Homo sapiens: one gene and its partner. The protein of the gene in region 2 interacts with the protein of the main gene of each other region in a biochemical or structural test. Each region holds a gene or a part of one and is shown on either strand. Other genes may lie near its edges. The genes, in order: ACR and ZP3.

What was found.
Region 1: the proteins of ZP3 (region 2) and ACR form a complex in vitro, tested with the Homo sapiens proteins (one study listed by IntAct).

Annotation. Positions count from the first base shown.
Region 1 is NC_000022.11:50,733,596-50,741,414, reverse strand, and holds the start of ACR (acrosin precursor), read right to left. Parts: upstream 3,212-7,819; 5' UTR 3,180-3,211; coding exon 3,103-3,179; intron 2,145-3,102; coding exon 1,941-2,144; intron 1,722-1,940; coding exon 1,438-1,721; intron 1-1,437. UniProt on the Homo sapiens protein: Acrosin is the major protease of mammalian spermatozoa. It is a serine protease of trypsin-like cleavage specificity, it is synthesized in a zymogen form, proacrosin and stored in the acrosome.
Region 2 is NC_000007.14:76,420,533-76,428,430, reverse strand, and holds the start of ZP3 (zona pellucida sperm-binding protein 3 isoform 1 precursor), read right to left. Parts: upstream 3,482-7,898; 5' UTR 3,467-3,481; coding exon 3,155-3,466; intron 1-3,154. UniProt on the Homo sapiens protein: Component of the zona pellucida, an extracellular matrix surrounding oocytes which mediates sperm binding, induction of the acrosome reaction and prevents post-fertilization polyspermy.

The DNA of each region.
Region 1 (7,819 bases), on a different chromosome or scaffold from region 2:
CAGAGCATGGCAGGCTAGGGGGCTGGACAGAGGCCAGGGCAGAGCCATGGGTATCGGCAGCTGGAATAGAGGCTGTCACTCCAGGCCAGAAGGGGATGGCCACGTGTCAAGTGAGGCCAGTGAGAACAAGGACAGCTGGGATGAGACTCCCTTCCCTGAGGGACAGGAGAGGTGACAAACCTGTCAGAAACTTAGACCACGCCCTCAGAGAAGGAAATAAGAGTTAAAGGAAGAATCCTCAAATTATTGACTTTTTGTTGTTGTTACCCAAAAAAGGCTGCGTTTTAGACTCATATGACTGAATTGCCTTGAATTAAGAAGCCTCATTATCCATTATCAAGAAAAAAAGAGATTGAGATGCACCACTTATGGAAAGCTGGAAGTATAGGTCACATGCAGAGATCAAGTCCTACTGGGTCTTGTCCTGCTGGCAAAACCTTGCTGCTCACTGCTGCCATTTAATGGGGTCACCTGTTGCTTCTGGGATAAATGGTATCTCTAGTGTGCCTAAGTATGTAGGGAGAGGTGTCTGGGCGTCTCTGACCACGGAGTCAGTAATGACAATTTGTTCTAGGTCACACCTGGGGCCCTCCGTGAGCCTGGTCTGGTACGGAAGAAATTCCCCCTACTCTTCTAGAACTCATCTGGTGTCGAGTGTATCAGGTAGTGTTGGATGGGCAAGAGATCTTCTGGGAGCCAGGGGAGAGAGAGACAGCTTGGTTATGGACAGAGCTCTAGAGCGACAGCTACACCCGTCTTGAATGGAGAGGTACCTGCCGGACACTCCAGGAAGCCTGAAATACAGGGATGCCTATGACCCACAGAAAGCCACACCAACCACCGGTCCCCTTCCCAGTCTACAGAGCAAATGTCAAGTAACTCAGATGGAGAGGGTAGATTTGGTGCTATGACTGCACCGGAGGTGGCTGCTGATGGTGACAAAGACAGCCTGGAAGCAGGAAGGCTGGGCCCTGGAATCACAGGTGTTAGGAAATGGTCAGCTTGGAGACCATCTGATCCAGCCCCTCCATTTACAGATGAGGAAACCAAGGCCCAGAGAGTGGAAGGCACTGTCATACGGCCACATAACCTTATCTGGAGCTCTTCTCCAAAGGCTGTTTCAGGGTTGCTGCTTGTTTCCAGGATCCAGCAGCTTGGGCCCCAGGTGCCAAATACAGACACAGCCTCAACCCCATTCTAAGCAACGCTGCGCTCTGCCTGCACCTGCTGTCAGCCCCCCCGTAGACAGCCAGACGAGTCACCCATCACGTGACCTGGCACAGGGGACTGTGGAAGGCCACAGTGATGGCTCTACGTGTAGCGCCGTGAGGAGGATGAAAGCAGCCTGGCTGGGTGTCAACAAGTGACCGCTGCACCTCAAAGACCACCAGGAGAATGGCCAGCAGCGTCCCCCCTTGGAGGCGCTCCCATACTCACCTTTCTCTTCTATATATCCCCAGCCGGCCACCCAGCAGCTCTGGGAGCCTCTGGGGAGGCCTGCCTTAAAGTGGGGCAGGCAGCCCGGCCCAATGAAGCGCCCACACGAAATGGGAGGGGTGATCTCCACGAGGGCAATGTCATTTCCCTCTGTCGCAGAGTTGTATTTTTCATGAATGATGATTTTCTCCACATATCTCTCTTGCAGAGGCGCCTTTACTGGTTTATTGTTCCCATATGTAATTTCCTTTGCTCCGAAAACCAGTCTCCAGTCATGCACATTACTGTGGGCACAAAGGTAAGCCAGGTCACAACCGGCTGGACAAAAGCCTGGTGACAGCGACCCTCAGGGCCTTCCCCTAGCAAAGGTCTGGACCAGCCCCCGGAGTCTTGCAGCCACTTGGCCCAGAGCCCCAGGGAGACGCTGCACAGCATCCCCGGGGAACGCCCCTCTCTGAGAAGAGCCGTTCTGAAGACCTCCCTCAGTGCATCCCTACACGTACTTTTTGCCGACGAAGCAGTGAGCAGCAGTGAGCACCCATCGTGAATTCAGCAAGCTGCCTCCACATGTGTGGTACCTGTGGCTGTTGTACGTGAAGATCTGGAGGCTGACCATCCAGGGCCAGGCCCCATGCTGTGCAGCCTTCCCGCCGACGATGCGGACACCACCCTGTGGGTTTTGCCTGAACCGTAACCCACAGGGGCCACTGGGGAGAGACCAGAGCACAGTTCAAACCTGGCATGAGCACAGCCTGTCCTTGTAACTCCACAACTGAGGGGAGGCAGGGACATGGGGTTGGGAAAAGTGGGGAAGAGCTTCCGGGTTCTGGGAAAGCAGGGGCAGCCTGCGCTATGTAGGAAGCCGCAGGCTCTAGGAAATGGTTCTGGGGCCACGACTTCTCAGGTCTTGTGGGTGCAGTCACAGATGGAGAAAGAGGAGGCCATAGGAAGCCAGGACAGGCTGCATGGGCCCTGAGGGATGGCCCGTCCCTGGGCAGAACAGGAGGGTAGAGGTGGGGATGCGGGGCCTGGGGACAGAGGGGTGTAATGGCCTGAGGTCCTTATAACCAATCTTGGGTGGGAGACTCAGGGAAGTCAGGTGATGAAGGGGGTCGTTGACAGTGATGGGAGGAGGGATAGCAGCCAGGGGCAGATACTGTGGCCCACAGGTGTAGGGGGCACACTGAGAGCAGTGGAGGTCTAGAGGTGGAGGCTCTGGGAACTGTGTCACGGGTGGGAGGCCACATATAGCTTGGGAGGTGTTGGTATTTCGGGGTACCTTGGAGTGAGAGAGCCTACTGGGGGGTAGGGGTGCAAGCGGTGTGAAGCGATGATATCCTGGGGCTGTTGGGGGCAACCACGGGTTGGGACAGCTGTCTGTGGGGGGATAAGGGCTCCCAAAATCAGGACTTCATGTCTTCAAGACAGTGGGGTCAGTCCCTGGGGGAGTGGGAGAGGCACAAGGAGCCTGAGGTGCTGAGGGGTCCATCTCTGGAGGAAACCACGAAAGCTGAGGGTCTGGGGGCTCCAGGCTGCTGATTCTGGGAGCAGGGGGGGTCCAGGTTAGGGATGCAGCCTCCTTTTCCCTAGCCCTGGACAGAGGGAGTCGGGGTGGTACCTGCTCCTCAGAAGATCCTTCCCCCACCAAGGTGCCCCGACACTTACTCACACGTGGCGTTATCTTTAGCAACCACGGACACTGCCAAGACCAGCAGAATGGCAGTTGGTAGCATCTCAACCATACTCCTGGCACTGCCTGGCCTGCAAGCCTAGTGACCTCACAAAGCTCCGTGGCTGCCTGGCCAATCAGCAGGGGTGACCCCCACCCCACCCCCAGCAGTCAGGCCAGGTAAGAGCCCCTCGCCTTAACTGGTTTGTGCTGAAGAGACTTCTTGACTTCCTGCATAGGCTCCCCCACCACCAGGATGATGGGGGACTCCTGTGCAGCCCCACTCCCTCTGTCCCAAGGCCAGGATCTCCATTCCCAGTAACTCTTGCGAGGTCCCCACATCACCCAAGGCTCTGGCTTTGTGCAGGTTCAGAGTCTGCCTCTCATGCGTGCTGTGACCACTGCAGACTCACAGACTGAGGAGCGGCTCAGCCCTTCAGTGATGAGACGGTGCAACATGTTTGTGGATCAGAGGAGTCAGGGTCAGCAGATTAATTGATCCTTAATTGTTGTTGGGGAAGTTTTCTTTTCCTCTTCCAAGTGAATGCTATCAACACACTTTTCCAAGAGTCATTTTGAATTTTCCTAATTTACAACTGCAAAGCCCACCTTCCTGTCCGTTGCTGAATATCACAAGGTCTCCTATTATCCTGAATGTCTCCAGATCGGCTTTCTGTGACTGAGGTGGAGCAAGGTGTTTTCTCCTATACTTGAATGTCAAGAGTTTTCATACAGCTACCTGAATATCATGAAGCATCATTTTTCCCATCTGATCATCAGGAACTAGCATCTCACCTACCAGAGTGTGACAAATGCTTATTGCAAACACCTGAATGTTAAAACATTTCCCATCGCCTGCAAGTGTCAGGAGGTCACACTCTTACCTGCATGAGGGCAGCCTTACCTCTTCTACCTGAATGTAAGATCTCAACCAGCCCGAGGGTCAATAGGTTGCACATCATCTAAGTGGGTGTCAGAAGGTCCCATGCCTCCAACCTGAGTGTCAGGACATCTCATCTCCTATTCCTGAGTGTTGAGTTTTCAGATTATCAGATGATCTTGATTTATCTATTTTCTCTAACTGAATGTCGTACTTATGACATCCTCAAATGAATGTTCAATAGGTCTCGTATATCTTACCCAGTATCAGGGAGTGATCACCTCCTTCTTTGAAAGAAATAACAACTCTGTTTTTCCACTTCAGTGCCAGAGGCCCTCATCGCCTCCACCTACAGGTTAAGAATTCTCACCTCCACCACCCAAGTGTCACCCTGTCGCACTTTCTCTACCTGAAAATCAAGAGGTCTTACATCTTCCAGCTGAATGTCAAGAGGTTGTATTTTACCTATATGAATGTTCTGAAGTCTCCACCGGTATACCAGAGTGTTGGGAGATCTCATTGCCCCCATCTGGGTGCCAGGGCATGTCCTACCCTCTACTTGAATATAGTCTCATATCCCTGTCTAAATGGCATGGAGCTTTCATCTCCTCTGCTAGAGTATCATGAGATCTCCTCTATTCTGGGTGTCCAAAGTTCTCATCTCAACCCCCTGAGGTCTGGAGGTATTCTCACCTCTTCCTGGTTGTCTGGAGGTCTCATCTCCCTTACCTGAGAGTCATGAAACCTCCTATCTCCTATATGCCCTATCTAAGTCATGACACTTTATCTCCTCCGAGTGTCAGGGGATTTTTCTACCTTTATGTCAGGTAGCCCCACTTCCTCTAGCTGAAGGGCATACAAGTTCTATTTCGTGACTTGAATGTGAATAGGTTTCAGCTGCACTACTGAGTGTTAGCGGACCTCACTTATTTTAACTGAGCATCAAGTTGTGTCTCATAAATAACCAGAAAAAGACTTTGGAAATATGGTTCAAGAAATGGCAAGAAGAATTGAAGAAGTGGGCCCAAGTGCAGAGGCTCATGCCTGTAATCCCAGCACTTTGAGAGGGTGAGGCAGGCAGATCACTTGAGCTCAGGAGCCCCAGACCAGCCTGGGCAACACGGCAAAACCCCGTCTGTACAAAAAATACAAAAATTAGCCAGGTGCAGTGGCACCTGCATCCCAGCTACTCAGAAAGCTGAGGCAGGAGAATCATTTGAACCCAGAAGGCAGAAGTTGCAGTGAGCCGAGATCGCACCATTGCACTCAAGCTTGGGCAATGGGAGTGAAACCCTGTCTCAAAAAAAAAAAAGAAGAAGATTAAAGTTTTGACTGTTAAAGAAAATATTATTCGGGTGTTTTTAATGGATAGCACCTATTTCTTTACAAATATTTAGGAGGTATCAATAAAAAAGTCTGAAGACCCAATGTCAGTGTCTGGATTCTAGAAGACCATTACAGTTTGACTCCGCAAAGCTTACCCACTTCTGATTCTAGAAGGGGCTGCCAGTCATCGTGCCTGCCCGTGGCTATAGTGATGGTTGCGGGAAAAGTACCTGGCCCGGCCCATTTAATTTTGTCATTAAACTAATGGAAGCAACAAACATCTCAACTCAGAGTGACTTTGTCTGACCTTCTTCATGCTGTTCTAAGAGCGAAGGAGAAATGGGTGACAGGTCTGGGGCCAGAGGGTGGGGTCCCATCCGAGGGCATGGCTCAGGCTGAGGCAGAGTGCTCAGCACAGGGGGCAGGATGGGGGCTCCCCATCTCCCCTCAAACTCCTCCCTGCTCTCTGCTTCCACCCTGACCCCCAGGCACCCCTCCAGCTCATCCCAGCCATTCTCGCTGCTCCTGCTCACCCCAACCACCCGCTGCCTTCGCCAGCCGTGCCCACTTCTGTCCCCATGCCTTATTTACCTGGGCAATCCAACTCCCACCCCAGTTTTTCTCACCCTGATCTCCAATCCCTTCCAGCCCCCAATCCCCTACTTTTCCATTCCTGTCCCCACCACCCTCCGTGAGGAGCAGAAACCTTATCCAACCATCCTCAATGTCCAGCCAGCCAGGAAGGCAAGAAGATCCCAGAGGGAGTAAGAATGGTTGACGCAGTGAAACCTTGAGGGCCGAAAAGGGGTAGGTTTCAGGTCTTCACCCAGGGGAAGCAGGTGCCTCGGGGGTGGTTTAAGCAAGCAGGTGAGGGTCTGGGTGGCGCCATGGAGAAGGACGAAGGCCCTTTGAGGCTATGGTTGATGACAGCTTGAAAACCAGCCTCAGGCTGGGCAAGGTGGCCCACACCTGTCATCGAAGCACTTTGAAAGGCTAAGGAGGGTGGAGTTCTAGACCAGCCTGGGCAGCAAAATGAGGCCCCCATCTCATAAAAAATAAAAAAAAAATTAGTCAGGTGTGATGGCCCACGCTTGCAGTCCCAGCTACTTGGGAGGCTGAGGCAGGAGGATCGCTCAATTCCAGGAGGTTGAGGCTACAGTGAGCCACGATCATGCCCCTGCACTCCAGCCTGGGTGACAGGGTGAGACCTTGTCTCAAAACAAAACAAAAGCAGCCTCCATGTCCTGGCCCTGCCCCAAAGTTGTCCACAGGTCTTGGGAGTGGCTGGGGGGTGCCAGCCCACAGGAAGAGCAGAGGCCACACAATTTCAAATTTTCAACATTTCCTAATCCTCATCTTATTTTCAGATTAGAAACTGAGGCCATCATAAGGAAAGGGCTGCACGGGAAGTCAAGGAGGGGGGCCCTGCAAGGGTCTGAGTGTGGGAGCAGGGGGCCCCTGACTCGCTCTGGGCCTGAGTGTGTGGAATCGGGAGGGTGGGTCTCCCTGGGCTGCACATGGAGCCCTAGGCCTCCATGGGGACTCAGAGTCTGGGGCTAGTGGCACTTCTCCACGGTGCCACCGGCCCCACCCCTGGCTAAGGTTAACCACAGAGCCAAGGTATGCGATTGTCATTCTGTCATATTCACGCGCCTCCTCAACCCAGTGTGTCCAGGCTCTGAAACCACTGCCCCTCCTGTAAGCAACCCTCCCCACCGGGGACGTCACATCTCTGCAGCCCCTGGCCTCAGTGCTGGGTCCTGTGCCCTCTACTTTCTCACGGCTCCCTCTTGATTGCCTTTGCCCACTTGCCTTACTGTTTGCCCTTCAAGACATAGCTCACCACCTCCTTCCACTCAGCGAGGGGTCTCTGTCCCTCCTGTTGGCTGGCCACCCCCACCAGGTGCCACCCAGGACGTGTCTTTTTTGCCACATTATCGGCTGCTCACATGACTGCCTGTGCGCTCCTGAAGGACAATGTCTTGTCTCTGGTGCTCAGGGTGGGAGCAAAAAGGAAACCTCACATCCAACTGGGCAGACAACCCAAGGTGAGAAGCACCAACTTGCTCTAATTTGAGATAGCACCAGGGCCGTGCAGACGCAGAGCCTAACATCTAACTGGGACTCCAGGGAGGGCGGGTCAGAGAAAACGTCCTGGAAGACAGGATCCGGAGATCAGCCTCCAAGCTATGTATGCTTGATGCAGGCAAACGATGGGTGATCCAGGCAGAAGGAAGAGGGCATGTGTGAGACAGAGCCCTGAAGCGTCATAGCGGCTCAGGGATTGCAGGAGGTGGGGGGAGACTGGCGAGCAGCATGTGTGCATGGGGAGGGAGCAGGGGATGCTGGCAGGGCCACGGCAGCACTGGCTGGGCCGGACTGGCTCACGGGGTCCATCCATCAGCTGCATTTACAGACAGGCTGGTGTTTGTCAGCAGAGGGCAGAAATGGAAACAGAAAACCAGTGAATCAGCAGGGAAGGAGTGAGGGCTAAATCTGGTCTGCAG
Region 2 (7,898 bases):
ATGAGATTCTCTTGAGAATCAGTATTTTTACAACCTTTCCAGGTGATTAGCATAGAGCCAGCACTGGAAACCCCTACTTTAGTCACTTCCTAACCACCTTTTGTTTTTTTGAGATGCAGTCTTGCTCTGTCACCCAGGCTGGAGTGCAGTGGCACGAACTCGGCTCACTGCAACCTCCGCCTCCCAGGTTCAAGCAATTCTCTGCTTCAGCCTCTGAGTAGCTGGAATTACAGGCACGTGCCACCGTGCCTTTTTTTTTTTTTTTTAAATAGAGACAGGGTTTCGCCATGTTAGCCAGGCTGGTCTCGAACTCCTGGCCTCAGGTGATCCACCTGCCTCAGCCTCCCAAAGTGCTGGATTACAGGTGTGAGCCACCATGACTCAACCCCCAACCACCTATTCTAAGCTCACTATCCCCACCTCTCATCTCAGGGAGCTTATTTAAAAACTACTTGAGGGCTGGGTGCAGTGGCTCATGCCTGTAATCCCAGCACTTTGGGAGGGAAGAGGATTGCTTGAGGCCAGGAAGTCACGACCAGCCTGGGCAATAGAGCTAGACCCCATCTCTACAAAAACATAACTTGGCTGGGCACGGTGGCATGTGCCTGTAGTCCATCCCAGCTATTCAGGAGGCTGAGGCAGGAGGATGGCTTGAGCCTAGGAGGTCGAAGTTGCCCAAGAGCTCAGGTGGCTGCCTGGCCCTGACCAAACTCGATCTTCAGGGAATAGTCCTAGACCTTATTAGCAAGTGCCCCAGCACAGACAGAACCAGCATAGCTCGTGGGGCCCCTTATTCAAAAGTTATTACCATTTCAGGGCAAGAGGGCATTCCATTAAGCACTGGGCCCCACAGAACTGCACAGGTTGTATACCTGGGAAACTGGCCATGGCTGTATTTTTTTTTTTTTTTTTTTTGAGACGGAGTCTCACTCTGTTGCCCAGGCTGGAGTGCAGTGGCACGATCTCAACTCACTGCAACCTACGCCTCCCGGGTTCAAGCAATTCTCTGCCTCAGACTCCTGAGTAGCTGGGATTACAGGTGCCCGCCACCACACCCGGCTAACTTCTTTGTATTTTTAGTAGAGATGAGGTTTCACCATCGTGGCCAGGCTGGTCTTGAACTCCTGACCTCGTGATTCACCCGCCTCGGCCTCCCAAAGTGCTGGGATTACAGGCGTGAGCCACTGCGCACGGCCAGCCGCAGGTGATTCTCACCGGGCAAAACTGGGAAACACCACACCAGAGGAAGGAGTTTGCAGGCTTTGCTCCTCATTGGAGTCACCTGAGATCCTTATTACCCACAGCTGGTCCCACATCCTTTCTATTTTAGCAGCCTGGACATCAGGATTTTTAGAAGCTCCACAGGTGGGGTTAATAAAAGAGGGTCTTGCTCTGCCTTCCAGGCTGGAATGCAGTGGCACAATCGTAGCTCACTGCAGCCTCCAAATCATGGGTTTAAGCAATCCTCCCACTTCAGCCTCCCAAGTAGCTGAGACTAAAGGCAGGCGCCACCACACCCTATTGTGTGTGTGTGTGTGTGTGTGTGTGTGTGTGTGGTGTTTGGTAGAGAAGGGGGTCTCATTATGTTGCCCAGGGTGGCCTTAAACTCCCGGGCCCAAGTGATCCTCCCATCTCAGCCTCCCAAAGTGCTGGGATTATAGGCGCCATTGCACTCCAGCCTGGGCAATAAGAGCAAAACTGTCTCAAAAAACAAAAACAACAACAAAAAAATACCACTTATCAGCTTCTAACCTATTAAAGCCCATTTCACAGAAGGGGGGGGAGCCAGGCACCTGGCTCCCCAAGTAAATCTAAGACATGTTTGTGAGCCTCTAAACTGGAATAATTCCTCAAGTAACTCCTGCAGCTCTCTGGCCTCCCTCCCCAGGAAAACAAGGGCCTCGAGTCCTCAAAGAGAGCCCAGGAGACCACAGTTAAGACCAGAGCTCTGGCCGGAGGGCTCCAGGGGCTGGACTTGCCCCCATCCCAGGCAAGCTACTGGGTCTAGGCCCAGGTGAGGAGGAGCCAGGTTCCCCTGAGGCGGGAGAGGACAGGCCCTCCATGGGACCACAGGAACTTGGTCCAGGGATCAGGGTTTAGCTGGGGAGCTGTGTGCCCAGCCCTGCCCTGCCGTAAGGCCTCTCCTTGCAGCCTCTTTCCCCACTGGCTAGGGAAAGGGAGGTCTGGCCTGGATTTCTTGGTCTTTTCCTGCATGTACCACAGGTTAAGCCTCTCCCCCTTGGAGCTGCCCCCAGGGACCCACTGATGCTTTTAAGGTCTTTAACACCAAGGTTATGATGCCCCCGCCCCCATACCACTTATCTATGTGGAATTTTTTTTTTTTTTTTGAGCCAGAGTCTCGCTCTGTTGCCTAGGCTGGAGTGCAGTGGCACAATCTCAGCTCACTGCAACCTTTGCCTCCTGGGTTCAAGCGATTCTCCTGCCTCAGCCTCCTGAGTAGCTGGGATTACAGACACGCACCACCATGCCTGGCTAATTTTTGTATTATTAGTAGAGATGGGGTTTCACCATGTTGGCCAGGCTGGTCTCAAACTCCTCAGCCTCCCAAAGTGCTGGAATTACAGGCGTGAGCCACCACACCAGGCCCCAGTTAGTTTTTTTAAAGGCTTAAGAGATGGGGTCTCACTATGTTGCCCAGGCTGGCCTCAAACTCCTGGCCTCAAGTGATCCTCCAGTCTTGGCCTCCCATAGTGCTGGGACTACAGGCATGAGCCACTGCACCCGGCCCACTTGTTGTTTTTAAGATAATGTATACTTTGGGTCTCTTCAGGATGAGTTCCTAATGCCCCCAGCCTTAGAAACAGCCCCTTAGGCTACCCACAGGGCTATCCTATCACGCAGGCCTGTGTGTGTCACAAACCCACCTGAGAGAGAGTGGCGTGGCTTGGGCCAGCCTGAAGTGCACGGCCACCTCTGGCTCCACCCCATCGACCCAATGTCGGGCATCAGAGGCAGGAGCTGCCCTGGGTCCGGTGACCTCAGTGCCAGCTTCAGGCCTCAACTGGGCCACCTCCCCACCTACAAGTGAGAGGGATCCACCCAACCCCACCTCCCACCGATGGTGGCCACAGTCCCCATACCCGGCTGCCTCGAACATCCTCCCACCAAAGCCAGGGCCCCCAGCCTCTCTTACCTGCATGCTGTTGCCACACTCGTGGAGTCCAACCTCAAACCTGACCACATCTTCTGTGTCCATGGAGACCAGAGGCTCACAGGCCTCTGGGCCCAAGGTGAGGTCAGCAGCCCTGATGAGCTTCCCGGTGCCAAAAAGGTCTTTGCTGACCATGACCATCAGAGTGGCCTCCTGACACTCCACCAGTACGGGCTGTACGGACGTCTCAGGATGGCTGGCTCCACCCTGCAAGAGCCAGAGGGGTTGGGGGTAGCACAGCTCAGTACTACCCCAGAGCAGGAGGCAGATGAAGAGCCTATAGCTCAGCTCCATGGTACCTGCAGAGCAGCAGGCAGCCGCCTCTGGCCATCTTATACCCGTGGGATGCTGGCTGCTGCCACCTGGGCTCTCAGCTTCTCAGCTGCCTCCCTTCCCTAGCCAGCTGGGCCCTTGTTGCATAAAGTGGTCTCCATCCAGAAGCATCAGTAACACCTGGGAGCTTGTTAGAACTGCAAACTCTCAGCCTTCACCCCAGCATGACCACAGCAGAATTTGGTTTTTAGCTTGGAAATCCCCCACGTGTATCCACATTAAAGTTTTTTTTTGCTGTGTGTGTGTGTGTTTGTGGTTTGTTTGTTTTTGTTGTGTTTTGTTTTGTTTTGAGACAGAGTCTCACTCTGTTGTCCAGGCTGGAGTGCAGTGGTATGATCTCGTTTCACTGCATCCTCCACTTCTCAGCCAGGTTCAAGTGATTCTCCTGCCTCAGACTCCCAAATAGCTGGGATTACAGGAAGGCATGCGCCACCGCGCCTGGCTAATTTTTGTATTTTTGGTAGAGACAGGGTTTCACTATGTTGGGCAGGCTGGTCTTGAAGTCCTGACCTCCAGTGATCCTCCTGCCTCAGCCTCCCAAAGTGCTGGGATGACAGGTGTGAGCCACCGCGCCCGCCCCAGCCCACTTGAAAGTTTTTAGCTTGTAAATCCCCATGTGTATTCATGTAAAAGTTTGCAAAGAGTGTGCTGCCTGCCTGGTGCACCACAATGTATCACAGCTTCCCTCCGATCCCCTGCTGGCCCTGCCCTTAGGAAGCTCGCAGCCCGGCAAGGGAGCTGTCCCAGGTCTGTGGGGGACACAGGAGAAAGCCCTTGATTGAAGAGTCAGGGGGATTAGATCTGAGACATAAGGAGCTCATTCCAAGTGTGAGAAAAAGGAGGCGGTATCAATTAGGAGACAGGAGGAATTTCATGGGTCTCTGCCTTATTTTATGGGAGGCCGGGGGGTAGGTCAGTTCAGGCAGAGGCAGCTGTGTGAAGAGAGGTGGAGAAGGGGCCCTGCGTTCTTCATTCCTGGGTGAATCCCCCGGAGTTCATACTGAGACACAGCAGAAGCGGGGCTTGGCTTCAGCTCACCCCGACCAGGGCATTCTTTTTTTTTTTTGAGACAATCTCACTCTGTTGCCCAGGCTGGAGTGTAGTGGTGCAATCTCAGCTCACTGCAGCCTCCGCCTCCCAGGTTCAAGCAATTCTTCTGCCTTACTCTCCCGAGTAACTGGGATTACAGGCTTGTTCCACCATGCCCAGCTCCTCACCACAAGGGATCCGCCCACCTCAGTCTCCCAAAGTGCTGGGATTACAGACATGAGCCACCACACCTGGCCCAACCACTGCATTCTTTCCTGCATTCCCAGTGATCACCAGACCCATACCACGATTTCACTGACATCATCATGTGGAAACATGCCTATTACTTAAGAGAATCCCAGGAACTGACCTTAGGAGATTCAAATATCAAACCAAGGTTGTGGAGTGTCCCACCTCAGGAAGGAATGCTGAACTGATTGACAGCCTTGTTGCCACCAGCCAGACTACCAGGTGGCCCATAACTCAAGATAACCATGGCAACCAGATAATGCCAACCTGCATACCTTCACGTGCTTTGCCCAGCACAGCCGGCATGCCCTATCCCTGATGTAAATTCCCATGCTTTGCCTAATAAAAAAGCCCTCCTGGCTCTTTTTGGAGAGTCAGATAGAAAAATCTCTATATCTTTCCCTCTCTCTCTCTCTTTCCCTCTCTCTCTCTCTTTCCCTCTCTCTCCCTCTCTCTTTCCCTCTCTCTCCCTCTCTCTCTCATGCTGCCTCCTTTATGTCTGGGCATAAGCTCCAATGAAGCTTTGTCTAGGAAAACTCGTTTAGCCTCCTGTCAATTTCTTTTCTTTCTTTCTTTCTTTCTTTCTTTCTTTCTTTCTTTCTTTCTTTCTTTCTTTCTTTCTCTCTCTCTCTCTCTCTCTTTCTTTCTTTTGAGACAGGATCTCATTCTGTCGCCCAGGCTGGAGTGCAGTGGTGCTATCTCGACTCACTGCAACCTCCGCCTCCTGGGTTCAAGTGATTCTCCACCTCAGCCTCCCGAGTAGCTGGGATTACAGGCACCCGTCACCATGCCCGGCTAACTTTTGTATTTTTAGTAAAGACGGGGTTTCACCATGTTGGCCAGGCTGGTCTCGAACTCTGGACCTCAAGTGATTCTCCCTCCTCGGCCTCCCAAAGTGCTGGGATTACAGGTGTGAGCCACTGTGCCTGGCCCTCATGTTAATTTCTTTTCTTTCTTTTTTTTTTTTTTGAGACGGAATCTTGCTCTGTCGCCCAGGCTGGAGTGCAGTGGCGCGATCTCAGCTCACTGCAACCTCCTCCTCCTGGATTCAAGCAATTCTCCTCCCTCAGCCTCCTGAGTAGCTGGGATTACAGGCGCCTGCCACCAAGCCCAGCTACTTTTTGTATTTTTAGTAAAGACAGGGTTCCACCATGTTGGTCAGGCTGGTCTGGAACTCCTGACCTCAGGTGATCCGCCTGCCTCAGCCTCCCAAAGTGCTGGGATTATAGGCGTGAGCCACCGCGCCTGGCCACCTCATGTCAATTTCTATTGCACTGAGGGCCTGAGGACCCATGGTTGGGGTAGGTAACCTGGTGAAGCCTCAGGTCCCTGGGAGTGAGAGTAGCAATTTAGGAGGCCGGGGAGGTGGGCGGGGCAGAACCCTGTGGGTGCCAGGCTGAGATGCTGGACTTAGCCCTGTGGGAAAAAGAGGCCATGAAAGGAATAGTATTGGCCGGGCGTAGTGGCTCATGTCTGTAATCCCAGCATTTTGGGAGGCCGAGGTGGGCGGATCACCTGAGGTCAGGAGATCGAGACCAGCCTAAGCCAATATGGAGAAACCCCGTCTCTACTAAAAATACAAAATTAGCCTGGTGTGGTGGCACATGCCTGTAATCCCAGCTACTTGGGAGGCTGAGGCGGGAGAATCGCTTGAACCCAGGAGGTGGAGGTTGTAGTGAGCCAAGATCACGCCGCTGTACTCCAGCCTGGGTAACAGAGCAACACTCTGTCTCAAAACAAAACAACAACAACAAAAGTCTACTGCAAGGGTCCTATCAGGAGATGATGAAGGACTGACAGGTACAGCATTTACCAATGGCCTACTCTATGCTGTCCCTGGGTGAAATTCCTGCAAGAGAGGAGGAAGAATACAAAAACTAATGGCATTAGCTGGGCATGGTGGCTCATGCCTGTAGTCCCAGCTACTCAGGAGGCTGAGGTGGGAGAATTGCTTAAACCTGGGAAGCAGATGTTGCAGTGAGCCGAGATTGCGCCACTGCACTCCAGCCTGGGCGAGACTCCATCTCAAAAAAAAAAAAAATTATACATATATATGTGTGTGTATATATATATAATTTTAAAAAATTAAAAATCTGCCAGGCATAATGGCTCACATCTGTAATCTCAGCACTTTGGGAGGCTAAGGTGGGAGGATTGCTTGAGCCCAGGAGTTCGAGACCAGCCTGGACAATACAGTGAGGCCCCATCTCTACAAAATCAAAGAAATTAGTCAGGCATGTTGGCACACACCTGTAGTCCTAGCTACTTGGGAAGCTGTAGTCCTAGCTACTTGGGAACCTAGCTACTTGGGTTGCTTGAGCCTGGGAGTTCTAAGCTTCAGTGAGTCATGATCATGCTACTGCATTCCAGCCTGGGCAATAGAGTGAGACCTCATCTCAAAAAAATGTGGAAATGGCGGGGCGCAGTGGCTCACGCCTGTCATCCCAGCACTTTGGGAGGCTGAGACGAGCAGATCACGAGGTCAGGAGTTTAAGACCAGCCTGGCCAATATGGTGAAACCCCATCTCTACTAAAAATACAAAAAATTAGCTGACGTGGTGGCACACGCCTATAATCCCAGCTACTCAGGAGGCTGAGGCAAGAGAATCACTTGAACCTGGGAGGTGGAGGTTGCAGTGAGCTGAGATTGTGCCACTGCTCTCCAGCTTGGGTGACAGACTGAGACTTAGTCTCACTAAAAAAAAAAAAAAGTGGAGACACACACACACACACACACACACGTGGAAATATATATGTATGTGTATATATATGTTATATATAGACATAAATATAAAGAGATACAGGGAGAGAGGGAGGATATGTATCAATCTTTATATTGGCTGAACCTGGGTAAAAGGTAAACAGGTTTCTTAGTGTTATCTGTGCAACTTTCATCAGTTTAATTTCAAAATAAAAAGTAAAACAAAAAATAACCAAAAACATAAAAAACTCTCTGTGTCAGATTCAAGTGAGACAGAAGACGATGCTGTTAACCAAGTTCCAAAAGCAATTGCTAAAACAAAATATGAAGTTCCTAGGTATAAAACAGACAAAAAAAGATATGTAAGATCTTTGAGGAAAAATTAACAAAACTGTATTGGCAGTCAGAGTAAAG